Linked DNA regions of Homo sapiens: region 1 is linked to region 2. The links come from fine-mapping of genetic effects on gene expression. A gene starts in region 2. The other region holds a variant in brackets. All regions are shown on one strand. Distances are between the middles of the regions.

Region 1 (12,410 bases), 25 kb after region 2:
ACATGGTGAAACCCCATCTCTACTAAAAATACAAAAGTTAGCTGGGCATGGTGGCACACGCCTGTGGCCCTAGCTGCTCGGGAGGCTGAGGTGGGAGAATTGCTTGAACCCAGGAGGCGGAGGTTGCAGTGAGCTGAGATTGCACTACTGCACCCAGCCTGGCTACAGAGCAAGACTCCGTCTCAAAAATAAAACAAACAAAGCAATTTAATGGAACTTCATGGATTCGTTGTTGCTATTTGTTAAATCTTTCCCTCTCTGCCCATTCTCCTTAGCTTGGGGCTGAACTGGGAGCGCAGGCAATCAGCCACCTGGAAGAAGTGAGTGATGAAGGCATCGTTGCCATGGCAACGGCCAGGTGCTCTGCCATCCTTCTGCCCACCACAGCCTACATGCTGAGGTAAGGTCGTTTCTCACCCCAGACCAAGAGCTGCAAGTACAAGCTGTGAAGACACAGACGTCCAAAGTGCCCAGACATTATTTCATTGCCCTTACAAATCCCTTAAAAATGCAGATGAAGAAAACTCAGCTAATGAAGATGCCAACCCTGGACTGATGTTCGTAAACGAATTTCTCTGAGGAAGGAACTTAGACCCAGATTGCCTTTGAGTGGCAGGATTATTGAGGAAGATGGTGCTTTCTTTTTCTTTTTCTTTTTTTTCATGGATTTTGGAATTTTTCAATTAAAAAGAATTACTATGCATTACTTTTATAATTAGTAAATAATGAAATAGGTGCTATACTTTTAAATATATGCATAAGATGTTAAAGATATTTAGCAGTATTCAGAATCTGCATGAGCTGTTTTCTAAAGGGATGTTAGTGGGTACCATAATTGCCATAAATCTTTATAAATCCTGGGGGTGGGAGGAAAGAGGAGACATATATTTTATAAAATCTCCCCAGATATTTTGCTGTATGCTGTCTATGAATTGAATATACTTAGTTCGTCTGTTATTACTGTTGCTCTGATTCTAACCAATATGAGATCTGAGGTCTTCTGACACTTCCCATTGTACCACTTACTTATATGATATCCAAGATTGTGGTCTGGGAGGCCAGCAGTCAAGAGGAAGTTTATCTTCTCTTAGGACTAGGTGCTTTCTGTGTAGCTAGGACATGTGGTCTTTTTCATGGGGAGTGATTCTGCAGTTAAGACAGTGGTTCTCAACCCCAGGGTAATTTTGTCCCTCAGGGGACATTTGGCAATGTCTCGAGACATTTCTAGTTGTCACAACTAGGGGATGCTACTGGCATCTAGTGGGTAGAGGCCAGGGTTGCTGCTAAACAGTCCTCATTGCACAGAACAGCTCCCAAAACAAAGAATTATCCAGCCCAAGACATGAATTGTACTGAGGTTAGGTAAGACCAGGCTCCAAGTAACTTTTAGAAGGGCGAAGAAAGGAATACTTCAGTGCTTTTCTCAAATCTACTATGATTTTATATGCACATGTATGATATTATACATTTTTATTATTATTACTATTCTCTTAAAGAGTAAACACAATGTAGACTATAATCAGGAAATATCAATAACGGTTCTTGGTATGACCAACGTCTTATACATTTCAAGTGTCATCAGTCTAAGTCATCAATCAATATTTGTCTCCACCACCCAAGAAATAAGTTTTTTGTTTTTTATTTTTTTGGAAAGAAAAGGCTTTCTTCGGCTGGGCACAGTGGCTCACGCCTGTAATCCCAGTACTTTTGGGAAGCCGAGGTGGGCAGATCACTTGAGGCCAAGAGTTCAAGACCAGACTGGCCAACATGGTTGAACTCCGTCTCTATTAAAATACAAATTTAGCTGGGCATGGTGGCGCGCGCCTGTAGTCCCAACTACTCGGGAGGCTGAGGCAGGAGAATCCCTTGAACCCAGGAGGGAGAGGTTGCAGGGAGCCAAGATCATACCTCTGCACTTCAGCCTGGGCAACAGAGTGAGTGAGATTCCATCTTAAAAAAAAAAAAAAAAAAGGCCTTTCTTTAACTAGTCTTGAATCTCTTGACATGGAGCAAAAGCCTAAGACTTTGTGGTACTGGAGGGCAATTCAGCATTAAAAGTCTGAACTTTGTTCCTATACCAGCGGAGGCTGTCATCTGCCATTGCCACAGACAGGTTTAGCCTCCTATTAGGACCACAGGGGCAGTCGAAGTGAAGGCCACACTCTGCTTTCTGGCTTCTCGTTTCTATATTTTTCTGATCTCTGCATCAGGAGAGACCAGCAGGGCCCCCTGCTCTCCCCTGAACCCTCTCTTGACTCTCATTTCCAGAATAACCATTGCCTTATGCTACTTAAGGGCTTGCTTTAATCATGTATTTTATGTAAATTTGCATGTAATATTTAAATGTATTCAGGAAATATTCACCTTGGTTTTTATGGAGTGCCCTAATACTTTTACAGCCTCACTTTTTCCTCTTTTACCCCTAAGTATTTATGGAAGGGGGGGAGGGCCATTCAAATGACTTGCAGGGACATTTGAAGCTGTACCCTTTCCTCACTCTCTGTCTCTGCTTCACTCACCTCCTCTCATACGTTGTTGAAAAACATTTTAAGTGGTCCTACAAATGATCGATCATAGACTGGGAGTGACTCTAGGATGAGAATTATCTCTGCTGGACTCTTTCTCTATTGCAGCTGTTATTCCCAAATTAAATCTGTCCTCATTGCTTTAACGAGCTTTTAGGCTTTGTTTATTTTTGATGTAACACTTTTGAGATATGTCTTAAAGAATAAAGAATATTTCACCAGGGAGGTCAAGGGGATGCCTAATCCAGGAAGAAGTATAAACATTTTACACACTAAATTCTTGGGCCTTCAAGATTTTAAAGGACCTACAGAGATGTTTGAGGCAAAAAAAAAAAAAAAAAAAAAAAGAGGGCAAAGGGAGAGATGTGAATAGGAAATTGCAAAATGGAAACTAATAAAAATAGCATATTGTGGCTGGGCACAGTGGCTCATGCCTGTAATCCCAGCACTTTGGGAGGCCAAGGTGGGTGGATCACCTGAGGTCAGGAGTTTGAGACCAGCCTGGCCACCATGGTGAAACCCCATCTCTACTAAAAATATAAAAATTACCTGGGCGTGGTGGTGGGTGCCTGTAGTCCCAACTACTCGGGAGGCTGAGGCAGGAGAATCGCTTGAACCCAGAAGGTAGAAGTTGGAGTGAGCCGAGATCGTGCCACTGCACTCCAGCCTGGGCAAGAGACAGAGATTCCATCTCAAAAAAAAAAAAAAAAAAAAAAGCATAGTGTAACCTCATTTATTATTTAATTTGGGAGTCACCAAAAAGCTTATTAAATTCCAAAACCATTTGTAAGTTATATTTTCCTCCCTTTGCAAGAATGCCTTAATATGTAAAAAGATGGATGAGATAAACAATCATTAATTAAATGTTAGTCATATCTAAGTAACTGCAAAAGCAGAATGATAAAAATCAGGAGTCCTTGGATTATATATGTAACTCTACCACTAATCATTTAATCTTGAGTTTCTGCTTCTTCTTCCAGAATATGAAGGCGTTGACTGTCTCAAGTTCTCTTCTGTTCTGAACAGCTATTCTACAAAAGCTCCCATTCTAGAGACTGACATATTTTTTTCCTCCCCTTAGACTGAAACAACCTCGAGCCAGGAAGATGTTAGATGAAGGAGTAATAGTTGCTCTGGGAAGTGATTTCAACCCCAATGCATATTGCTTTTCAATGGTAATTATTTTTTTCATGTACCTTTCTGAGCAGAGTATCTACCAAGCATATAAATAATTTAAAAATATTTCACTAGCTTTTAAAACAGTATAAAAAATCTAAAAATATTTTTCTGTGAAACAAGAAAAAAAGGGGTAGACAGCAGTGTAATTGGATTTTTCTGTCCCACATAAATGCCTGCAGGCATAGAGAGAGGAGAGAAGCTTCTACATGCATTATTTTCTGATTCAGCTTTGAGTATTGTAGTTTTACAGTAACCCATTTCCTTTCTCCAGAGAATAGCATAAACTCCAAGAGGTCTTAGTAAGTATGGAAGTGAACTTCATTGTGTGCAGTAAGTGGTCTTGAAAAGTTGTCAATAAATATTAAATACGCAATCCCTATAATAAAGTAATCTTTTCCAAAGTCTAAGAATCTTTATGTATAAACTTAGATTTTTCCCATTGCAACTGAGCCAATTCCTCCTATACCTTTAACTGCCTCTATTTGTTGTGCTGTGTTGAGAAATGTTTTAAATTGCAGTTGCCATATGTCACTTTCCTCCAACACTTTTCTCTTCCTGCCTTAGCCAATGGTCATGCATCTGGCCTGTGTAAACATGAGAATGTCCATGCCTGAGGCCTTGGCCGCTGCCACCATCAATGCAGCTTATGCACTGGGAAAGTCTCACACACACGGATCGTTGGAAGTTGGCAAACAGGGAGATCTCATTATCATCAATTCATCCCGGTGAGTGTGCTTCAACTTAGCTCTTTTATATTATGCCCACTGAAGTATGCAGATGAGGCCTAAATCCCTTTTCCACTAATTATTAGTGTCAGACTCTGTCTGGACTCAGACACTATCCAGTCCCCTCTATCTTGATCCCTTTCCAAAGAGCAAATCTACTGACAGACCCTAAACAACAGGGTAGACCAAGTTTTCAAGATCTCTTCATCTGTCTGGTATTTTTCGTAGATTTCCAGATTTCTGCTCTGTTTACCTGGACTTTGGCCGGGTTGTGCCCTCTGGCATGTGTTTGTGTTTTTCTGCTCGGCTTCTGATTTTCAACTTGCTCCCAACTCTGGCTTCTCACTTTGGTTCTGATTCATTCCCTCTCTGATTTCTCATGCCGACTGGCTCCCAAAAGCTTAAACTTAGTTTTCTTGTTCCTGGTGACTTATCACTCACCCACCCATAGTCTGTTGCCACCTGGGCCTCCAGTGTAATATTAGTCTGTTATCACACTGCTAATAAAGACATACCGAGACTGGGTAATTTATAAAGGAAAGAGGTTTAATCGACTCACAGTTCTACATGGCTGGGGAGGCCTCACAATCATGGCGGAAAGCAAAGGAGGAGCAATGTCATGTCTTAAATGGCAGCAGTCAAGAGAGCGTGTGCAGGGGAACTCCCATTCATAAAAACATCAAATCTTGTGAGATTTATTCACTATCATGAGAACAGCATGGGAAAGACCCACTCCCATGATTCAATTACCTCCCACTGGGTCCCTCCCACAATGTGGGAATTATGGAAGCTACAATTCAAAATGAGATTTGGGTGGGCACATAGCAGCAAACCATATCAGGGTTTTACTGTTCTAGACCTACAAGTTGTAAATCCTATGGCTACTTGACTCTTACGAGCCCATTGCAGCCCTTGGACCTCAAGTCCTCCAGAGACACCTGCTTTAAAATTCTCTCCATGATCAGAAACCACTCCCTGTATTGGATATAATGCTGATGGTGACATTTATGTATCATTTAATGAAGCAAATATTTTAAGATCAAGTACTTAAATGATATTATTAAACAATGTTTGATTTACCATAGACCAGTTAGTTATATACGGTTTTTTAGAAAGCCCAAATACCATTGACTGGGTGTAAATAAATGTGTAGGGAATGCATTTTAAAATTAGCATTTATTGATAAAGTAATAATTTTTACTTGCACACATTGAAGTAATATTTGTTGTTTTTTTTTTTTTTTCTAGATGGGAGCATTTGATTTACCAGTTCGGAGGCCATCATGAATTAATTGAATATGTTATAGCTAAAGGAAAACTCATCTATAAAACATGATAGATTTGAAAAGAGAAGACTTTTTGACTATATGAAATAAGTCAATATAGTTATATTAAAAGTTAAAACACCTTAATATTTACAAGAATTATATCACTTAAACCTAAATGTACTTCAATGTCTTTTTAAGTCACTCAAAAAACCCAAGGGATAGATTTATTTTCATTTAACACATGCATTTGACATATAAACAGGTAAACCTATTGTGATTAAAATCACAAAACATCCAATTAGTTCACAAATATTGGTTACAAATATTCTGTAGATTAATATGGTGGGGTATCACAAAAATGCCTTTGTGGGGAAAAGTAGGCTTGGCTTAAAATTTCCATTTTGTGTCTGTATTTCACATCTCAGTTTTTAAACTATATTTAGTGAACATTGAGGGATCGAAAGAAATCTAAGTGATACGCCCCAATGAAGCTAAAATATAGCCTTCTGTTAAGCAAATAGTATTTCCTTTCCCCAAGTAGTTCATTTTCTAGATGCTTGTCAAATGAATTAATGTCCTCTGATGAAGAGTGTCCTTCCGTTTCTAAGGTCTTCTCAATCTCAGCAATAGAGCTTCCCAGCAGCGTTCAAGACACATCATTTATACACAGGCACAGGGGCCTTCCTGAAATGGGTGCATTTTTACCAACTACAATCATGTAATTTTTTTGGAAATTTTTTAAAATTTTCGATTCTTTACATTACAATTGGGTGAAACACATTTTACAGCTCTCAATAAATGTTTGCTGTCGCTCTTATTGTTGTTGTTTCCTTTCAGCCTGGAAGTAGATCAGCAGCGTTGTCTATTAGAGTTTTTAGGAAATTACAAAATTATTTGTAAAGAGTCGATAATTATTTACATATAAATGGGTGTTTTTAAAAGCCATGTAAGTTGATTTGAAATCTTTTTAAGTGTTTCGATCATCTTTATAATCACAACTGCATTACCAAACTTGGTAAGAAATGATTTGAGAAGTAAAGATTAACTCTCCAAGTGATCACTAATTTCAGTTTAATAGAGCCTGAATGAATGAGGCTTTGCTGTAGTCAATATAAAGCAACTCAAAATGCCCCTCACTGGAAGGTTAAGGGTAACATTGCACATTGTTGTCATCATGAGAGGTGACAGCATGCTGGCAGTCCTCAGAGCCCTCGCTTGCTCTCGGCATCTCCTCTGCCTGGGCTCCCACTTTGGTGGCATTTGAGGAGCCCTTCAGCCCCCCTACTGCACTGTGGGAGCCCTTTTCTGGGCTGGCCAAGGCTGGAGCCCACTCCTTCAGCTTGCAGTGAGGTGTGGAGGGAGAGGCGTGAGCGGGAACAGGGGCTGCGTGCGGCGCTTGCGGGCCACCTGGAGTTCCGGGTGGGCGTGGGCTTAGCAGGCCCCGCACTCGGAGCAGCCGGCCAGCCCTGCTGGCCCCGGGCAGTGAGGGACTTAGCACGCGGGCCAGTGGCTGCGGAGGGTGTACTGAGTCCCCCAGCAGTGCTGGCCCACCAGCGCTGTGCTCGATTTCTCGCCGGGCCTTAGCTGCCTTCCCACGGGGCAGGGCTCGGGACCTGCAGCCCGCCATGCCTGAGCCTCCCACCCACTCCATGGGCTCCTGTGCGGCCCGAGCCTCCCTGACGAGCATCACCCCTGCTCCACGGCGCCCAGTCCCATCGACCACCCAAGGGCTGAGGAATGCGAGCCCATGGCGCAGGACTGGCAGGCAGCTCCACCTGCAGCCCCGGTGCGGGATCCACTAGGTGAAGCCAGCTGGGCTCCTGAGTCTGGTGGGGACTTGGAGAGTCTTTATATCTAGCTCAGGGATTGTAAATACACCAATCAGCACCCTGTGTTTAGCTCAAGGTTTGTGAGTGCACCAATCAACACTCTGTATCTAGCTGCTCTGGTGAGGACGTGGAGAGTCTTTTTTTTTTTTTTTTTCTGAGACGGAGTTTCGCTCTGTCGCCCAGGCTGGAGTGCAGTGGCGCAATCTCGACTCACTGCAAGCTCCGCCTCCCGGGTTCACGCCATTCTCCTGCCTCAGCCTCCCGTGTAGCTGGGACTACAGGCGCGCGCCACCATGCCCGGCTAATTTTTGTATTTTTAGTAGAGACGGGGTTTCACCGTGTTAGCCAGGGTGGTCTCGATCTCCTGACCTCGTGATCCGCCCGTCTCGGCCTCCCAAAGGGAGAGTCTTTATGTCTAGCTCAGGGATTGTAAATACACCAATCGGCACTCTGTATCTAGCTCAAGGTTTGTAAATACACCAATCAGCACCCTGTGTTTAGCTCAAGGTTTGTGAATGCACCAATCGACACTCTGTATCTAGCTGCTCTGGTGGGGCCTTGGA[G/A]AACCTGGGTGTGGAAACTGTATCTAACTAATCTGATGGGGATGTGGAGAACCTTTGTATCTAGCTCAGGGATTGTAAACGCACCAATCAGCGCCCTGACAAAACAGGCCACTAGCCTCTACCAATCAGCAGGATGTGGGTGGGGCCAGATAAGAGAATAAAAGCAGGCTGCCCGAGCCAGCATTGGCAACCCGCTGGGGTCCCCTTCCACACTGTGGAAGCTTTGTTCTTTCGCTCTTTGCAATAAATCTTGTTACTGCTCACTCGTTGGGTCCACGCTGCTTTTATGAGCTGTAACACTCACCACGAAGATCTGCAGCTTCACTCCTGAGCTCAGCAAGACCACGAGCCCACCGGGAGGAACGAACAACTTCAGACGCACCATCTTAAGAGCTGTAACACTCAGCCCGAGGGTCCGCGGCTTCATTCTTGAAGTCAGTGAGACCAAGAACCCACCAATTCCGGACACAATCACAATGGGGTCTCTGGAGCTCTGAACCTCATGCGATTATTTAAGAAGTCTTGAGACAGTGTAGGGGGCACACAGTTGCTGTGTGTGATGGCTCCCCTGTGACCAGTCACCTAGGCACTGAACATTTGGGGCGCAGGAGATACACATAAAAGCCAAAACGGAATGTTAGGTCGAGTCTTCCCTGGAACTCAAGCAACACAAGATTAGATTCTTCTATTGAAGAAACAAGAAGGAGAAGCACATCTGATTTTTCATCTAGGAGGCACTCACTTTAAACAAATAGCATTCATGCCTTTTTTGAAAGAAGACAGAAAAAGACATCTACCCAAACTGCCCTAGTCCTCCCAGGCCAGCGTGCTGCAAGCCCGTGCAACTGACGGAGTTTGCTAGGAATGCAGAACCTCTGGCTGGACCCAGACCTGCTGAGTCCGAATCTGCATGCTAATAAGCCCCGGGTGATTCACATGCACATTAAGGTCTGAGCAGCTCTGAGTTCTAAGCCCTAATCACACCAATCTTCACACTGTTCCTTAGGGGACAGTGAGCTGCTCAGGGCCATGCAATACGGTTCCCTCTGCCCAGAATGCTTTCCTTCTCTTCCTTACATGGGAAACTGGAGCTGGACGCCCTTCCCCACATTCCCACATCTCTATGATAGCCTTTGTAGCATTGTAATTTAACTGTCTTTTGTATGTTAGACTAATGAAGTCTACCCTCTGGGCTGAAACTAATGTTCTCCAACTATTTTTTACATTTACATTTACATTTACAATGTTTACATTTAATAAATTAATACTCTCAACAAAAGTAAGCAAAAAGGCAAAATGAGTTGGGAGCAGTGGCTCACGCCTGTTATCCCAGCACTTTGGGAGGCCAAGATATGTGGATCCCTGGAGGTCAGGAGTTCAAGACCAGCCTGACCAACATGGTGAAACCCCATCTCTACTAAAAATACAAAAATTAGCCGGGTGTGATGGCGCATACCCGTAATTCCAGCTACTCGGTAGGCTGAGGCAGGAGAATTGCTTGAACGCAAGAGGCAGAGGTTTGCAGTGAGCTAAGGTAGCATTATTGCACTACAGCCTGGGTGACAGAGCCGAGACTCCATCTCAAAAAAAAAAAAAAAAAAAAGCAAAATGAACCATAAAGAGAACCATAAAGTTTAATAAAAAGCAATCCAGTGACCAGACCCAAAAATCAGACACAGGTTTAAAGCAGTATGAAATGTATCTGCTTTTGAATTTTGCCGGTTGTAATGACTTTTTTTTCTTTTTCTTTTCTTTTTTTTCTTTCTTTCTTTTTTTTTGAGATGGAGTCTCACTCTGTCACCCAGGCTGGAGTGCAGTGGCACGATCTTGGCTCGCTGCAACCTCTGCCACCCAGGATCAAGCAATTCTCCTGCTTCAGCCTCCCGAGTAGCTGGGATTACAGGCACCTGCCACGGTGCCTGGCTAATTTTTGTAATTTTAGTAGAGACAGGGTTTCACCATCTTGGCCAGGGTGGTTTTGAAATCCTGACCTCGTGATCCACTCACCTTGGCCTCCCAAAGTGCTGGGATTACAGGCATGAGCCACTGCACCCAGCCTGTGATGGGATTTTATGCATGTGGTAGATTGTCAGATACAGGCCCATGGATCACGTCAAATCACATGCCCATGCCCTTGAGTGTTACCCTCCCAAATTGACTCTGGGCCTGGAACGTGACTCGCTTTAGCCAACAGGACATTAGCGAACGTGGCACAACAGGGACTTGAAAAGCCCTTGTTCTTTAGGGTTTGCCTCCTCCAGCTGCCCTGAGACAACTTGTGACAAAGACCAGGTGAGCCTGCGGGGCTGGGGAGGAAATCCTGATACCTCCAACTCTTTTGTTGCTAGCCAATGGGAAAAAGAGTGTACTGAGTCAAGCATATTGTTCTTAAAACGGTTGACATCTGTCAACTGAATCCTTCAGAAGCTTGATTAACTGCTGTTAGAGGCGCTTAACTTTGCTATAAATACCTAAGAATAAAGCGACACCATAAGGCAATTGAGACTTAGTTTATTCCATGTTTCCCTTGAAGTTCCCTTGAAGGCGTGTGCTGTCAGTTACTAATAGAGCTGTGTAGAAAACTCAGTGACAAAGTGTCATTTTGACCTGGAGGGCTGCAGGGGCTGAAAGAATCCAGCATTCCCCAAACTGGAGCGAAGAGCACCATGAGACCACTGGGGGTTACTGGCTCAATGGCAGCCCACGGATGACAATGCACAAACCTCATTTGTGTGTGTTCACATTTTGACAAGGAATAGCACCAAGAACAACCTTTAGGTAAACAGTCTCCTCAGCACATTTTTTGCTCCCTGAATTGCTGTGTGCAGCAGTTTTCACTTCAGTTTCCACCTGACAGGTTGTAAATCTAAAGGGTGAAAACTCTATTGTGAAATCCACTGTTCGGCCCATTTTAGATGGCAATTAGGTAGGCAAGGTGGCAAGTGTGTCTGTCCTCCTCTCCACCAGCTGTGGTTTTTAGAGCCACGGTTTCAGACCACTTGAAGGGCCTTGCACATATATGCACACACTGGTGCAAAGTCACAGAGCTTAGACTTGGGAAGCCAAGAGGTCATGTGACCCATCCTTCATCTGGACAGATACACTTAAGCCATCCCTGAAGGTCCTTTATCTTCTCGGGGAAAAAAATAGATGCAGTAATACACTCTAGGGCTCCATCTGACCTTTATCAATAGGACTTATTTTAATGATTACCATTACAGAAAGGAGGTTGGTTAATCCCCAAAGATTCCTTATCTGTGAAATGAGGAAGGTTACAATAAGAATGTGAATAGAGTACTAACACCAAGGAAGTGAAAATACTAACCTCAAACTCCCATGTAAGCATTTGGGGGATACGTGTAGTGATAAGTACAAAATACACAGTTTAATAAGAGCCACCCAAATAGCAATCTTTATATTCATTCCTTATCTCCTTTGCACATGAAACTCCTTGTTGGTTTTAATCACCTCTACAATTAATAGCTGAAGACCCTATTGACTACTCTTTACTATGATCCAATTAATAGAAGAAAAAAGCAGCTTAAGGACAAATTATGACTTAAAATGGTTATTTATGAAGGCATATTAAGGCATATCATGCAAAGTAAAATTAGCCAAAGAAAGTCAACTGGTGGAGAGCTTGTTGAAGCAAATTTAAAAAAAAAAAAAAAGGTTAACAAAAGTCTAATGTTTTTAGAAAAAATTGCTATCAATCTGTTTCCAAATTTGAATTCATCTAATGCTAAGAGTAAAAAACAGGCACATACAATTGTGGTTATTCTTCTCACCCTTAAGAGTGAGTGGCCTGTTGAAACTGTTAAGAAAGAAAGAAAAGTTTTATAATCTGAAAATACCTGGTGGGTCTTGAACCACGACAACAGGAACACAGTGCTGAATTTAGCAACTATAATACTGCCATCAGCCTAACCAACGTAGGCTTTAGAAGAACTGAATGATACAATGGATTGATCTACCTAGGAAAGTTCTCAGGTCTCTCCTTCAGCCTAGTATTGCTTTGTGCTAAACTGACTGCCCTCTCATCTGCTACTTCATGACAAAGCCCATTAAAGGTCCTCAGACTCCGGGATTTTGGTGGATTTCTTGTGCAGAAATTGCAGTGAAAAGGCTGTTGGAGAAAGAGGTCTTGATTCTGGAATATGCTCCATTCTGTATTTTTCAATGTATGGAGCAGCTACTTCCCAAACCTGAAAAGCAAGGACAAAACAAAGTTGAAATATTGACGACATTGTTTCCACATGCTATTAAACATCAACTTCATCCGAAGTCAAAACATACTCTATACATGACCAGACACAGCTGCT
Region 2 (16,984 bases):
ATCAGCAAATATATATTCACGACATCAAAAAAAAAAAAAAAACTAAATAACTAGGCTGGGTGTGGTGGCTCACACCTGTAGTCCCAGCACTTTGGGAGACCGAGGCGGGCGGATCACCTGAGGTCAGGAGTTGGAGACTAGCCTGGCCAGCATGGGGAAAACCCGTCTCTACTAAAAATACAAAAATTAGCCAGGCGTGGTGGGCACCTGTAATTCCAGCTACCCGGAAGGCTGAGGCACGAGAATTGCTTGAACCCCCAGGAGGCGGAGGTTGCAGTGAGCCGAGATGGTGCCACTGCACTTCAGCTTGGGTGACAGAGAAGCTGTCTGTCTAGTATCCCATTATCCCATTCCCTGGTTGTATTATAGTTTACATAACCAACCCTTTCCAATGGACATTATGATTGATTCCAGTCTTTTGCTATTGTAAACAATGCTGCAATAAATATTCCTGTACACACATCTTTAATCACTTGTGCATACATATCTGTAGAATAAATTCCAAACATGGCTCCTTTTAAATGCTTTTTTAAAAAAAATGGTAGTGGAGCAGATACTACTAGTGAACCCCCAATATCCATTCTTCCTTCTTCTATAGGAATAGAACCCTAAATGAACACTCAGAGTAGAGGCTATGTTTCTCAGCCTCCCTTGGAGGCAGGTCAGCGGAAGTGGTGAATGCAACTTCAGGGCATGTCCCCCCTTCCCCTTTTCTCCTGGCTGGCAGGAATATGGATGTAATCACTGGTGTGGAAGCAGCCGTCTTGGACCAAGAACATAGCCCAGGAACAGGCCAGAAGGAGTTGGGCCCCTGATGTGAACCTCCATATGGAATGCTTGTATCCAGACTTAACCTGAGAGAGAACAAACGTCTATCATGTTTAAGCCACAGTTGTTTTATATTTTCTGTCTCTTGCAGCCAAACTTTTACATTGTAAATACAAATAGTGTCAAATGTTCCTTTAAAGAGAATGCCTATAGAGAGCCTGAGTGCCTGTTACCTATTACAAACTCTTAGTGTTATCCAAATGTTAAATTTTTGTCAGATTTGTAAGAGAAAATTGTAATTCCTTATATACCAATAAATACTAATTCCTTGTATGCTCATAAATAAGCAGAAGGAGGCTGGGCATGATAGCTCATGCCTGTAATCCCAGGTCTTTGGGAGGCCGAGGTGGGTGGATCACCTGAGGTCAGGAGTTTGAGACCAGCCTGGCCAACATGGTGAAACCTTGTCTCTACTAAAAACACAAAATTAGCTGGGCGTGGTGGTGCATGCCTCTAATCCCAGCTACTTGGGAGGCTGAGGAAGGAGAATCACTTGAACCCAGGAGGCGGAGTTTGCAGTGAACCAAGATTGCGCCAATGCACTCCAGCTTGGGCAACAAGAACGAAATTCCATCTCAAAAAAAGTAATTAATTAAATAAAATAAAATAAATAAAAATAAAAAATAGGCAGAAGGATAAGATGAGAAAGGGTGGGAAAGGAAAGAAGAGGGCAGATTTTCATAAAGTTTAGTTAGGTATGTCCTTGACTATGACAAATAATTGAGTTACTTGTTTTCTGTCATGAGAGACTGGGGCAATCTGGCTAAATATGACAATTTAATGCACCCTCTGATTTGAAGATTTTTTTTTTGAATTAAAAAGTAGAACAGAATCTTCTCTGCAGGTAGTTTATAAACTCATTACATTTTATATTTATGGTGTAACATTCTCCTTTTCTTATGCTCACAATCTGTTATGGAGCCTAACACTGCCAGGCCCAAACAAGAATATATTGATTGATTTCTTTTTACCTCCAGAATTCAGTGTTGGCAATAAATTTGAGGACATTTTCTTGCCTGGCCCTGTTGAAAGAAAAAAAAATACGTTTTTTAAAAATTCTATGAACATCATATAAAAGGGCTAAATTCAACTGCCAATGACTCCTTAACAGTCCTTATGGCTTTTAAAAGCAGTGAGCACACACATACTCTTTGACCCAGCAATTTCAATTCTGGTATCTTATGTCAAGAAAATAATCAGACAAGCAGCCAAAAAAGCATGTGCAATAATGTTTGTTCAATGTCATTTCATAAATACAGAGTTGACCAAATAACTATGGTATATCCATAAAATAAATTCCAGTTGGCCCTTAAAATGATGCTGTAGTCACTATTTACCTCTCTCCATGGTATTGGTTAAAAAACAAAACATTTCAAAAGAGTAGGGATAGTGTGGATTAAAAAATGCATGCAAAAATCTGAGAGGTGTTTGAAATGCCATTCATCAAACATGAATCTTGATTACATGTGATTTGGTGCAGTCTCTCATTTTTACCAGGTTTGGGATTAGGGTTAGGTGATTGAGGCACTCAATCTTAGCTGCAAAGCTTAAGGATTGCCAAAATAAACAAACAAAAACAAAACAAAAAAATCAACTTTCAGTTATTATGATAAATTAAATGTTAATGCAATATATTTTTATAAAATTCCAAATAAATGCAGGAAATTCTATAATGAACAAAATATCAAAATTGTAAATACGGACAGTCTCTGACCCTGTACTTGTGTGACCCTGAGAGCCAGTGCCTCACTCTACTCACCCAAATCCTGGCCCACAGAACTTGTCTCTATTTAAAATTCTGTTATTTCATTTATCATGAATTTTTTACATTAATTTATATATTTAAAATAGTGAATTAAAATATTGCTTATTTTGATTACTGAGTTTTTGCTTTCCCCTTAAATTTTATGCATGAAGCTAGAGCTTCACTGGCCTTACCCTAATCCTTGTTCTGATTTCTATACTTTGAGTATCATTCAAATTTCTCAGTGAGCTGGTGTAACTGTTACAATGAGAAAAATAATAAAGATATATTCATTTTGGGGATAAAGGACACCCAGGAGTTTATATTTAAAAATGTGCCCGCAGCAGAAACAATGGACAACACATTCTATTTTGGGCTACTCATTTAAATATGTGCCTCAGGAATCTCAAAGAGCCATATATAAGAGCTAAATATCCCGGAAGCAGAGCAGCAGATGATTAAGAACACAGACTTTGGACAAGCCTGATTTTTGAATCTTGGTTTGGTATTTACTTATGTGTGAGCAAGTTCATGTATCATTCAAAAAACATTTATTGAGTACCTACTATGTGTCAGGCACTGTTCTACGTGTGGGGGACAGGGCAATTTTTAAAAAGACAAAAAAGAACAAAAACTATTGTCTTCATGGAGCCTACATCTTAATTACTCAGCATCTCTGAGCCTCTGCTTCCTGTTTCATAAAGTGGACACACCTCTTAAGGCTTTCTTGAGGATTCAGTGGGCAATGGATTTAACCAAGTGGGGTGCCTGGCTTACAGACCAGCTCAGTAAGTGGGAACTATTATGTGCTAATATTTACTAATTAGCATCTGATTTTAGTTCCAGTGGTTATAAAAACAAATATTTAAAAAATTATGTCAAAGCTTATAAAAGAGAAAAAAATGAATAAAAACTATAACATTGACATTATACTTTTTCAAATGACTGAACATTTTTTCACAGGCATTAAATTCATTCTCACGGGGGAAAAGAAAGATCGGTGAAAAATTGGTGACAACCTGTGGTTGATGAGTATTTGGAATTTGGATGGCTAATACTAAAGATTTGTAGATTTTCTCAATTTTACACTCTGTACTCATCTCCACTCTTAGGATTCTGATCACCTCTTTCTTGTCACATTTTCACTCCTTTGGTCCTTCTATCTATCTAAATTCACTCTCCTTCCCACTCTCATTCCCTTTATCCTTAAAGTCTTTTTGCAATGAGCATCTTTATCCATGGGTTCAAGGACTTTTTCACTCACAGAAAAACTGGAAGTTCTGTTCCTTTAAACCAATTGCTAAGAGCAGATATCTGCTCTTATTCTGTCTCTATTATATAGTTCATATAACATGTAAATGCAATCAGCAGTCTCCAGATGTTGTTATACTTCTATACTTCCATATGCATGAATTCCTGTATTGATGAATGAAAGGTTGGTGAACAAAAGGGAGGGAGAGGAACAGAACCAGTTATTGTTAGGAAGGGATTATAAAGTCCCCTTTCCAATCAGAAAAAATGTTGAAGTCAGTGGATGTCTTTGTTGTGCGAAATAAAAATAGCATGATGGCTAAACAAAGGCTCTGTACCAAAAGAGAGGGAAAATGTTATTGGATTGCATAGCAAATGCCTGAAAGTTCACATCTTAAATACACGTTCACATCCAACTTCCAATAGATGAAAAAGATCAAAAGCTCAGAAATATCAGGAATGTAAAATGGTGGTGTATAACTGCCAGCCATCCATTTTAGAGGTCGCATAAGCTAAATGATTAAGAACATAGACTCTCTCTATGTCCCTTAATCCTCACACTTCAATTTCCCCATCTTTCAAGAGGAATGATGCAAATAGTATCTACCTTGTGGGATTGTTAGGTAAGTTACCACGTCCAGCCTTTGGATGGCCTCAGTTGCATAGTATGTGCTATGGGAGTGTAAGCACATGGAGAGGTGCACTCTGAGGGAGGAATGTGCCTGGTGTGTTTCAGGAACAGTAAGGACACCAGTGGGCCTTAAACACAGTGAACAAAGGGGACAGCACCCCAGATGAAGCCAGAGAGACAAGAAGTCCAAGATCACGAGGGCCCTGGAGGCCATTTTCTCAGTGAAATGGAACCATTCAATGAATCACTCTGATGCTGAGCTGAGAAGAGACTGTAGAAAGGGAAAAGGGTCACACAGGGAGATCTACTAGGAGACTACAGCCACTGGGAGGCAAGAGATAATGCTATCCCTTCCTTGGGATAGCAGTGGAAGTGGTGAGAGGTGGTCCGATTCTAGATGTGTTTTGACAGTAGAGTCTACAGGATTGGCTGATGGTTTGGATGTGGAGTATGAGATAAAGAACTGATTGCAGAAAGGATGGAGTTGCCATAAATGGAGACAGAGAAGGCAGTGGGGGAAGGGGCACTTGGGAAGATCAGAGGCTCATTTTGGAACATGTGAAATTTGAGATATATATTAGATATCTAAAGGGACATGGGTGTAATGTATACTGTTCTTTCAAGTGAACCCCATGCTGGTTGATTTAATTAATTGTTGTGTTCCTTTAATAGCTGTACAATTATATGTGGTCTCTGAGTCAGGTCTCTTGACAAGTGTCATTGCAAGGGTAGTAGGAATGGCACTATGGAAAGACCCCTGGCCTTTGGGGGCAGGTAGGTTTAACTCCTGCCTCTGACTCTTATCCACTCTTTCTCTTGGGTCTAGAGAATTATGCTTAATGCACTGTAGAATCTTCTATCAAGTATGAATAATAACACCTTCCTTACAGGCCTGGTGCAATTTTCAAACACAGATAATATATGCAAAGTGCCTGCTCATAGTAGGCTTGTGAAGAAGTGATCCCTTATACTTTTTTCAAACTAGATATTGTCCAGATCCTTCCTCTTTCTGGCCCACTCTGTCAACTGCCGCCATTTGAAATGGGAGCATAACTGACAACTACTTTTTGTAAGAAACTCCCAATCAAAGTTCTTGAAACCTGGTCATTGGAGAGGAGTCTACCAGCAATATCAGTGCAAATCTGGGGGACCTGAATCAGCTTCATGTAGAGTCTTAACATTCTGAGCTCCAGGGGAAGTGGGGAAAGAGGAGTGGGATTTGATAAGGCCCAGTCCTAAGTTTCTAAACCAACTCTAAATAAAATGAATAATAACACTGTCTACCAGATATTATTCGAATCAGTTTATTTGTTTTTTTGCAACAACCCCCTCTAAAACCCAATGAAAACGAATTTCCAGATGATCTCAATGTGAGATAAAAAGCAATGTTTATCTTCACATGCATATGAGGATTTAGACTGGTTCTCTCAGACCCAATGCCCTTCCATTTTTTTTTCCCACCTCCTCTCCGCCTACCTTGGACAAATACTAGGAAAAGGGGCTGTGAACTGTGTCCTTGGATGGTGTGGGGAGATCACAGTTAGCAATTTTTTGTTTACCTAAAAGCCAGGAGCCACTGGGTCCTTGGCCTGCTTAGATGCACGCTGCCGCTTCTGACTAGGTCAGAGCACAGCACAATGATGAGGAAATTACTTTCACCTTGACCTTTAAGGCACTGCTGGCGTCAGGCTATTTAGTATGGACGCTTCTGTTGACATTTCTGACTGCCCCTTTTGCGAAGTGAAAAAAAACAAACAAACAAACAAAAAAAAAAACTGGAGGTCAAGAGGAAGGAAGGATGGGTTAAGGAGTCAGCATATACAAGTCAGATAATGTGAAAAGTATTTTATAAGAGCTGCTATCGGGATGTTGGTTATTACCAAGGAAAAATGTGTCATCCTTATCCATCTATAACTACTGAACAGTAACTAAGGAAAGAAATTCACTCATCCTTTCTGCTTTTGCAAACCTCCTGTTTGCAGGAGCTTATCAGGTAATGTTGTCTGTCTGGACTGTGAATCAGATGCACAGTTCACCCACAAACATAAATACCTATGAAAAAGAAATATAATTTCTTTTAGACTCACCCAGAACTTGCAAGCTTTAAGTACATGGTCTGTGAAGTCAGGAGAGGAACTATACTATTGGCTGAAATCTAATCTTTAACTTAATTGGCCAGGAAGACAAATAGCAGGATTAAAACACACGAATAATAGTAATAATACCTATTACTTGTTTAGAGCTGGGCACTGGGCTAAGTGATTTATGTTTTATTTTATTTAAAACTCAGACAAGCCCATAAAGTAGAAACAGCTCTCCCTATGATGAGGATGAGAAAACGAGGCTTCGAGAAATTACTGTAAAGAAATTCCCCAAGGTCAAACAGCTTATAGGAAACAGAACTCAGACTAAGACAAGTTTATTGAACCCTATTTTTCTATAATTTTAACCCATCCTTTATACATACAATTGCATAGTTCTGCAAATATGCCTAAAATTGCAAAATGTAACTGATTAAAGTCTTCAGCAGAAATTTTATAATAGAAAATTTTAATATTTCTCTGTGAATTAGTGACTTTATGTGTTTCTATTCCCCACTATTTCTACTTCTCTTTTTAAAGACATAGAAATATATGTATGTATAAACTTTTTAAAAGCTATGCACACACACACACAAACAACCTGTTTGTGATTGTGTATATGAGCTGTGAATAATCTTCTGATGCCCCCTCCCCCCCACCCTTAGGGTCTCTTTCACTCACATTGTCTATATATTTTCCAATTTTTATCTTTCTCTTTCCTAACTGATCTCTCTTTTATAGGCCATAATATGAAGCTAAATTATATTCTTATTTATCGTGGTCATCTAAAGGAGTGTTTGCTTTCTGTTCCAGGTTTTTTTAATGAGACTAAATTAACTTTTATATTTTGTGGGTTTGCAGGCTTAGTCTGCTTTTATAGTATATTATTTGTGTCCACATCTATCACTTTTATTGTAAAGTCTTTACTGGGCAGGGAAAGCGCCTTTCCTATCTTTGTATGTTCCACAAGACTTAACACAGAGCTTGTGATAAACATGAATAAACGAAATCAAGTAATTAAGGACTCAAAAGCCTGGGCCTGGCAGTGTTTCCATAGCAATTGGTAGCAGGAAGCGACGAGGCTGAGAATCACAGACCATCTTCCATAAACTTGATTCTGTCTCCAATTTTGGTCGCAAGTTGCTTGTAGGCCCACCAGACACAGCTGAGGGGTGGGAGGGGGCATGCGGAGGGGCGGACACTGAGCTGAAACCTATTTTACCTCAGCGAGTTTGGATCCAGGAGCCTTTCCAACCTATCGTTCGGGAAGGCGTTGTGGGAAAAGTGGGCGGAGGTGCCAATCGATCCTCCAGTCTCGGCTCTATCCTCCCCCAGCCCGGTTCCCGGTCATCTCAGGGACCGTCTGGTAGCTGATCCCGGAACGCAGCTGGCCAACGGATAAGTGCGGGGCACCCGCCACCCGCGCGGACCCAGGAGCACCTCCCCTACCGCATCCCCCTCCTCCCCACCCCCAGGTTCCCTCGGCTCGCGGCCCTCCGCGTCCCGGGCTCCCGCCCCAGAACCTGTGGGCAGATGTTTCCTCCACGCAGTACCCTCCCGGGGCTCTGCCTCCAGGCTCGCGTCCCAGCACCCTAGGCAGAGGTTTCCCCCACTCTGTCCTCTCCCGGGGCTCTACCTCCAAGCTCCCGTCCCTGCCCCTGGGCACAGCTTTCCCCTACTCTGCCCTCTCCAGGAGCGCTATCTCCAGGCTCCCACCCCAACCCCCCGGGCAGAGGTTTCCCCCATGGCCCCCCTTCCGGGGCTCTACCCCAGGTTCCGGTCCCTCACTCCCGAACACTCCGGGTGCCCTCACCCAGCCAACCCTTGACGCGCTTCCACATACCACGTGATCCACACAGCTCACTTTGATCTCTCGGGGTGACCAAGCTTAAGTTTCCTTATCTGAAAAGTAGGGACACTAGTCTCCATCTCGTTTACTCGGGATGGGACAAGACGACCAAAAAAGAGAGGATTCCTCATCAGGTTTATTACTCGTTGCCATTCTTGCAATGATTACCGCCCCCGTTGCTGTGGTTGGGGGAGGCGAGCAAAGGGCAGCGGCTGCGAGCGCCCGCCCCCGCCCCACCCTCCCAGCCCCGGACAGCGCAGGCTGCGGCTTTTCGTCCTCCACTGAGTCCTGCCGGTGGCCCGAGCCCGGTGGCCTCCCGGCGACCCTCGGCGCGAGGCGACATGGCAAGCGGCCACAGCCTCCTGCTGGAGAACGCGCAGCAAGTGGTGCTGGTGTGCGCCCGCGGCGAGCGCTTCCTGGCGCGGGATGCGCTGCGCAGCCTGGCGGTGCTGGAAGGCGCCAGCCTGGTGGTGGGCAAGTAAGTGGCCGGGCGCGCAGGGTGGGGACCGCCACGGGCGGAGCTGGCCGCTCTTCCTCTCACTGTGCACTCTGGAGGGAAACAACGCCGTGAAAGCGTCCCTGCACAGAGATACACGGGCAAGCCAGCCTTTGGGGTACCTGTTGCTAACACGCTCTGCTGCTTGGGGTTGTCATTCCGTCCAAAGAGCTCAGAGAGGAACACCCCATTGGAACGCATCAGGGTCCTGCCTCTGCTGGTAAAATATCACTGTCCAACCATCAGAAGGGGTTGAGGTCCTCCCCAGTGCTTCTTAAAGGGAGGCCAGAAGACCACCTTTGTCAGGGTGGCCTGTGGTTATTTTATTCTTACGGCAGATTTCTGATTCCACCTGCGTCCCCCACTCCCTATCCCTAGAATTTTAGAATCAGCATCACTGGGGCTGGAGTTCTGAGACCTGAATTTTTCAAAAGTACCTTTCACATCCTCGTGATCTCGTACACTAAAGCTTTAGAACCACGGAGAACATTTAGACGATAATGGCCCTGAGTGATAATAAATCAAGATTTGACCATCAGAAAACAAGATATTTCTCTTACTCATCTGAGCTTCCTGCCAGATATGAATAAAAGAACAAAGTTTGAGGGCGACCTGGGGTAGCAAGGGAAGTTGGATGAGAATTTGAATCCAAAGCGTGCCATGGGACCACAATTGCACACGATCAATGAGTCTCACAAACTGACCACGGCTTATCTGAGGCAGTTTAGGGTTGTGCAAGAGCCCAGCTTTTAAGGGACTGTGGGTTGGTTTAATTTTATTTATTTATTTATTTATTTATTTATTTATTTATTTATTTATTTTTGAGACGCATGAGCCACTGCGCCCAGCCTATTTTTTGTTTTTTTGAGACAGGGTCTAGCTCTGTTGCCCAGGTTGGAGTGCAGTGGCATGATCTTGGCTCCACCTCCCAGGCTCAACTGCGATCTCCACCTCCCAGGCTCAAGCCATCCTCCCACCTCAGCTTGACAAGCAGCTGGGACTACAGGTGCACGCCACCACGCCAGGCTAATTTTTGTATTTTTTGTAGAGACAATGTCTCACTGTGTTGCCCAGGCTGGTCTTGAACTCCTGGGCTCAAGCCATCCACCTGGTTTGGCCTCCCAGTGCTGAGATTACAGGCGTGAACCACCACGCCCAGCTTGACTGGTTTATTTTTAATTAAGGGATGAAAACATTCCCAATTTACTATGAAAATATTATTTAAAATTTTGCTTAGAAAGTTGAAAAATATGTACCTGGGTTGGGACTGGAGTATCTTATAAAAATTATATCAATGCGACCAGGCACAGTGACTCACGCCTGCAATCCCAGCACTTTGGGAAGCTGAGGCAGGTGGATCACCTGAGGTTGGGAGCTCGAGATCAGCCTGGCCAACATGATGAAACCCCATCTCTACTAAAAATACAAACATTAGCCGGGCATGGCGGCGCACGTCTGTAATCCCAGCTACTCGGGAGGCTGAGGCAGGAGAATCGCTTGAACCCGGGAGGCGGAGGTTGCAGTGAGCTGAGATCTCGCCACTGCACTCCAGCCTGGGTGACAGAGCGAGACTCTGTCTCAAAAATAAATAAATAAATACATAAATAAAATGATACTAATGCACCAACATGAAGTCCTGGGTTCCAAGACATGTTCTATGTTCACATCAAAACCACAAAAAGTAGGGAAAGGAAAAGGAGGGAGCTGACTTGTGGTCTGGAAGATGGGGCTTTTTCATTTGAGTCTGCTACATTGTTCTCACAGTTTGTTGGATTTATTACAATGAAATAAATTTACAAGAATATTGAGAACTTTGCCATTCAAATATGATTAGCTCGGTACAGGATGGTGTTGTTTTTATTTTCACTTACTATCATCACTGTCTTATATATTAGGTTGGTGCAAAAATCAAGTATAGAATTGGAATAATTATCTGGTTATTTGAGATGCTTTGAAATATATCTCCCACCTCATTATCTGAATGTTTTAAGGTAAAAGTGTTTTCAGGGTGAATTATTTAGGTGATTGTCTTAAATTTTCACATCACTTCCCTTATGCAGAACCTGTGTGTTCAAGGACAACTTAATCCTGCTCTTCTTTTGGTAGACAAGAAGAACACAGGCTGTGAGTGTGAGTGTGTATAGGGAGAGGGGTACTGATTAAAAGCACAGAGAAGTGGAAGAAAGTTCCATTTCAAAGCCCAGAATTGGATGGATTTTAACAGTGTGTGTTTTTTTTTTTCCCAACAAGTATATACATACCATGGTGTGTCCTGATTAGAATGAATCTCAGTAAGATCAACTAATAGTTAATCCCCTATATGCTATAGATATATAAAATGAGTCCTGGAAAAGAATATGGTTTGAGGGACACCAGAAACTCCCCCTTCCTAAAAATAAATATCTCAGTGATTGTCTGCCATAGGGTGTAAATTCCACCATTGTGTTCATTCATTTAGGTCTCTAAAGGTATCTCATTCTTAAATTAAGTTCTCTCTCTCTTTCTCTCTGTGTGTGTGTGTGTGTGTGTGTGTGTGTGTAGATTGCAGTTAATCTTGAAGAGGCTCCCAGGTGTGGAAAAGAAGCACAAACTGTCATCCAGTTGACAATTGTCCCATCCAAAGGCTAAAACCTAGATGAAAATGTCTAAATGAACAAAACAAACAGGAATTAAAATATAGATTCATACACAAGGACCATTTGTTTTAGCACTTCAGAGGAGGGGCAAAAATGGAAAATGTTGAAGGAAAAATTGGTGGGTGTTATATTTTCCTTCCTAGAAGCCAATTAAACTGTCAGGTGGACAATGAACCTAAAATAGGACATTTTCATTCATTCACAAATATGTGCTGAGTAGTTAGATTGTGCTCAGCGTAGAGGATGCAAAAATGACTAAGACTGGTTCAGACCTCAAAGAGCTCAAAGTCTACTGGGAAACAAGACACATGAAAAGATAATTATAATACAATATGGTAAGCACAAAGGTAGAGAGATGTGTGCATGCAGGCTTATTATAAGAGACTGCTCCCCCTCCCCCTCCCCCTCCCCCTCCCCCTCCCCCTCCCCCTCCCCCTCCCCCTCCCCCTCCCTCTCCCTCTCCCCACGGTCTCCCTCTCATGCGGAGCCGAAGCTGGACTGTACTGCTGCCATCTCGGCTCACTGCAACCTCCCTGCCTGATTCTCCTGCCTCAGTCTGCCGAATGCCTGTGATTGCAGGCACGCGCCGCCACGCCTGACTGGTTTTGGTGGAGACGGGGTTTCGCTGTGTTGGCCGGGCCGGTCTCCAGCCCCTAACCGCGAGTGATCCGCCAACCTCGGCCTCCCGAGGTGCCGGGATTGCAGACGGAGTCTCGTTCACTCAGTGCTCAATGGTGCCCAGGCTGGAGTGCAGTGGCGTGATCTCGGCTCACTACAACCTACACCTCCCAGCCGCCTGCCTTGGCCTCCCAAAGTGCCGAGATTGCAGCCTCTGCCCGGCCGCCACCCCGTCTGGGAAGTGAGGAGTGTCTCTGCCTGGCCGCCCATCGTCTGGGATGTGAGGAGCCCCTCTGCCTGGCTGCCCAGTCTGGAAAGTGAGGAGCGTCTCTGCCCGGCCGCCATCCCATCTAGGAAGTGAGGAGCGCCTCTTCCCAGCCGCCATCACATCTAGGAAGTGAAGAGCCTCTCTGCCCGGCCGCCCATCGTCTGAGATGTGGGGAGCGCCTCTGCCCCGCCGCCCCATCTGGGATGTGAGGAGCGCCTCTGCCCGGCCGAGACCCCGTCTGGGAGGTGAGGAGCGTCTCTGCCCGGCCGCCCCGTCTGAGAAGTGAGGAGACCCTCTGCCTGGCAACCACCCCGTCTGAGAAGTGAGGAGCCCCTCCGCCCGGCAGCTGCCCCGTCTGAGAAGTGAGGAGCCTCTCCGCCCGGCAGCCACCCCATCTGGGAAGTGAGGAGCGTCTCCGACCGGCAGCCACCCCGTCCGGGAGGGAGGTGGGGGGGGTCAGCCCCCTGCCCGGCCAGCCGCCCCATCCGGGAGGGAGGTGGGGGGTCAGCCCCCCCGCCCGGACAGCCGTGCCGTCCAGGAGGGAGGTGGGGGGGTCAGCCCCCCGCCCGGCCAGCCGCCCCGTCCGGGAGGTGAGGGGCGCCTCTGCCCGGCCAGCCACCCCGTCCGGGAGGGAGATGGGGGGGTCAGCCCCCCCACCCGGCCAGCCGCCCCGTCCGGGAGGGAGGTGGGGGGGTCAGCCCCCCGCCTGGCCAGCCGCCCCGTCCGGGAGGGAGGTGGGGGGGTCAGCGCCCCGCCCGGCCAGCCGCCCCGTCTGGGAGGTGAGGGGCGCCTCTGCCCGGCCGCCCCTACTGGGAAGTGAGGAGCCCCTCTGCCCGGCCAGCCGCCCCATCCGGGAGGGAGGTGGGGGGGTCAGCCCCCCGCCCGGCCAGCCGCCCTGTCCGGGAGGGAGGTGGGGGGGTCAGCCCCCCGCCCGGCCAGCCGCCCTGTCCGGGAGGGAGGTGGGGGGGTCAGCCCTCCGCCCGGCCAGCCGCCCCGTCTGGGAGTTGAGGGGCGCCTCTGCCCGGCCGCCCCTACTGGGAAGTGAGGAGCCCCTCTGCCCGGCCAGCCGCCCCGTCCGGGAGGGAGGTGGGGGGGTCGGCCCCCCGCCCGGCCAGCCGCCCCATCCGGGAGGGAGGTGGGGGGGTCAGCCCCCCGCCCGGCCAGCCGCCCTGTCCAGGAGGGAGGTGGGGGTGTCAGCCCCACGCCCGGCCAGCCGCCTCGTCCGGGAGGGAGGTGGGGGGGTCAGCCCCCCACCCGGCCAGCCGCCCCGTCTGGGAGGGAGGTGGGGGGGGGTCAGCCCCCCTGCCCGGCCAGTGGCCCCGTCCGGGAGGTGAGGGGCGCCTCTGCCCGGCCGCCCCTACTGGGAAGTGAGGAGCCCCTCTGCCCGGCCAGCCGCCCCGTCCGGGAGGGAGGTGGGGGTGTCAGCCCCCCGCCCGGCCAGCTGCCCCGTCCGGGAGGGAGGTGGGGGGGGGGTCAGCCCCCACCGCCCAGCCAGCCGACCCGTCCGGGAGGTGAGGGGCGCCTCTGCCCAGCCACCACCCCGTCTGGGAGGTGTGCCCAACAGCTCATTGAGAACGGGCCAGGATGACAATGGCGGCTTTGTGGAATAGAAAGGCGGGAAAGGCGGGGAAAAGATTGAGAAATCGGATGGTTGCCGTGTCTGTGTGGAAAGAAGTAGACATGGGAGACTTTTCATTTTGTTCTGCACTAAGAAAAATTCCTCTGTCTTGGGATCCTGTTGATCTGTGACCTTACCCCCAACCCTGTGCTCTCTGAAACATGTGCTGTGTCCACTCAGGGTTAAATGGATTAAGGGCGGTGCAAGATGTGCTTTGTTAAACAGATGCTTGAAGGCAGCATGCTCGTTAAGAGTCATCACCAATCCCTAATCTCAAGTAATCAGGGACACAAACACTGCGGAAGGCCGCAGGGTCCTCTGCCTAGGAAAACCAGAGACCTTTGTTCACTTGTTTATCTGCTGACCTTCCCTCCACTATTGTCCCATGACCCTGCCAAATCCCCCTCTGTGAGAAACACCCAAGAATTATCAATAAAAAAATAAATTAAAAAAAAAAAAAAAAAAAGAAAAAAAAAAAAAAAAAAGAGACTGCACAGAGGGGTGCCTGAACCAATGGGAGGATCGGGAGAGGTGTCAGATTTATCTACTATAAAACAAGACCAATTTTTAGGTTTTAGAAACTGAGACAGTGTATGTGCCAATTCTAAATTTTCACAAAGCACCCTGAGAGCCACTCAAAGAAGCATCATCCTCCTTAAATCATCATCATTACTGTTTTCATTATAATTATACTTTAGCTCCTAAAGTAGGGTCTTGCTTGCTAATTTGCTTTACTTTCAGAAGACTCTGCAGAATTTTTCTTCCTAAATTTCTCAGAATACAAAGTAAATAAAACCACATGTGCCTATTATTTGTATCCCCTAAAAAAGTATATGTGATATACGTTCATTGTAGGAAAAGAAAATACAGATGAACAAAAAGGAAAAAGTCACTCAAACCCCATCATTAGGTGAACTAATACCAACATTTAGTGCTTCTGCTTTCAGATGTTTTCCTATGCAAATAGAATCACATAAAAATGCATGCTTTAGAAAAGGAAGCTATGCATATTGTTTTGTATTCGGGTTTTTTCACTTAGTCATAAATAGTGAAAATCTCACCATAGCAGTAATATGTATCTTTGTAATTTTAATGACTACCTTAAAAAAACACTTTTGGGGGAATGCTTTTTGTTGGTTTCCTTCAATAACTGCCCTCATTATGTCCTCAACAAAGGAACATAAGCCTTTGTTCAAACATAGGTACATCCACAGATGAATGAGAGAACCACACTGTTGAAAGGTAGATAAGCATGGGATTAGTGGGGTCAGGAAGAGGACCCAGTGCCCTCAAAATTCACCTCCTGCACAGACGGAGAATGTTAGAGATTTATTTCTTAGGTTTGACTTTGTTAAAACAACCTCTCTTAAAGCAGTGTCAGTCATTAACTCTTTGCATAAGAGCATTCTCTTTGTTCTTTCCCATTCAAGGGTCAATTTCTAATCCTGCCGGTCCTTTCCACCACCAGATTCACTGCACACTGGGTAGATTATCTAACTGGGCCAGATAAAAGCTGTTAGTGATGAAGAATTGTCTTAATCAGGATACTAAATTCTATTTCAAGACTTAATTTCTTATTCCACCCTAAGTTTATCCTCCCCAAATCTCCCACAATCATTATTTCTTTTCCTATCATAACATCTTCTCTTTCCATCCAGTTTCTTCTGCTCTTCCACTCTTACATTTTGTTAGGTTACCCCAACCACTTCTGTCCCAGTTCGGAATCCCTTATCCTAATTGCTTTTCACAACACATTCCAGCTCTCAGGTTTATAGCCCTCAATCTCCATGTTGGAAATACGAATTTGTTGTAAGTGACCAAGACCTAAATTAATAGTGGCTGAAACAAGATGGAAGTATATTTCTCTCCTATGTGAAAATCCAGACATACGAATGCAGGGCTAGTTGATTGCAATACTCCATGGGGTCCTTAGGAGCCAGGCCCCTGCTGCCTTGCTCTCCCATGCATGGCCCACTTTCTTACACTCACTCCATGACCCAAGATGGCCACCCCATCTCTAGTTGTGGTGTCTGCATTCCAGCCAGTAAGAATAGGAAGAGAAGACAATCTTACCGGCTAGACCTTAGTCTCATAGCCACACCTGGCTAGTGGGAGGTGGGGAAATGTAGTCTGTATTTTGGGTCATCATGTGTCCAGCTAAAATTTAGGGCTCTACTAGTGTAAAAAAGGGAACATTGATCTTGGGGAACAAATGGCAATTGTCTGCTACATATATTTGACGTTTAAAGTTTTTTTAATTGTAAATTTTCATGGGTACATATATATGGGGTACATGAGTTATTTTAAACAGTCGTACAATGTGTAATAATTATATCAGGGTAAATGGGGTTTCCATCATCTCAAGCATTCATCATTTCCTGGTGTTACAAACATTCCAATCGTACTCCCTCAGTTATTCTAAAATGTGCAACATATTATTGCTGATTGTAGTCACCCTGTTGTGATATCAAATACTGGGTCTTATTCACTGTATCTAACCATATTTTTCTAGCCATTAACAATCCCCATTTTTCTCCTCTCCCCTTCTATTCTTCCCAGCCTCTGGTAACCATCATTTTACTCTCTATCTCCATGAGCTCAATTGTTTTCATTTTTAGCTCCCACAAATGAATGAGAATATGCCAAGTTTGTCTTTCTGTGCCTGGCTTATTTCACTTAACATAATGTCCTCCAGTTCTATCCATGTTGTTGCAATTGACAGAATCTCACTCTTTTTTATGGCTGAATAGTACTCCATTGTGTGTATGTATTACATTTTCTTTATCCATTCATTTGTGGGTGGGCACTTAGTGTACTTCCAAATCTTGGCTATTGTGAATAGTGCTGCAATTAACATGGGATGCAGACATCTCTTTAATATACTGACTTCCTTTCTTTTGCATATAGATCTACCAGTGGGATTGCTGGATCATATGGTAGCTCTATTTTTAGTTTTTGAGGAAC

What was found. PIP is the estimated chance that this variant, and not a neighbour inherited with it, causes the effect.
Region 1: its variant is fine-mapped to the expression of AMDHD1 in stomach (GTEx, PIP 0.97).

What each region holds. Positions count from the first base shown.
Region 1 is chr12:95,962,080-95,974,489 of GRCh38, forward strand. AMDHD1 (amidohydrolase domain containing 1) reads left to right here. Exons shown (of 9, transcript NM_152435.3): 6 at 276-400; 7 at 3,607-3,700; 8 at 4,269-4,429; 9 at 5,677-6,641. The coding sequence ends at 5,764. It overlaps HAL (histidine ammonia-lyase), which reads right to left. Exons shown (of 21, transcript NM_002108.4): 21 at 10,583-12,293. The coding sequence ends at 12,153. Among named protein-coding and RNA genes, the nearest start is that of AMDHD1, 25 kb to the left of the region's middle. RefSeq lists enhancers at 4,073-4,557, 8,026-8,671, 8,672-9,317. The variant G/A (reference allele first, on the strand shown) is at 8,089.
Region 2 is chr12:95,934,674-95,951,657 of GRCh38, forward strand. It overlaps AMDHD1 (amidohydrolase domain containing 1), which reads left to right and starts at 8,658. Exons shown (of 9, transcript NM_152435.3): 1 at 8,658-8,862. The coding sequence starts at 8,726. CCDC38 (coiled-coil domain containing 38) reads right to left here and starts at 7,941. Exons shown (of 16, transcript NM_182496.3): 1 at 7,758-7,941; 2 at 1,800-1,850. The coding sequence starts at 1,836.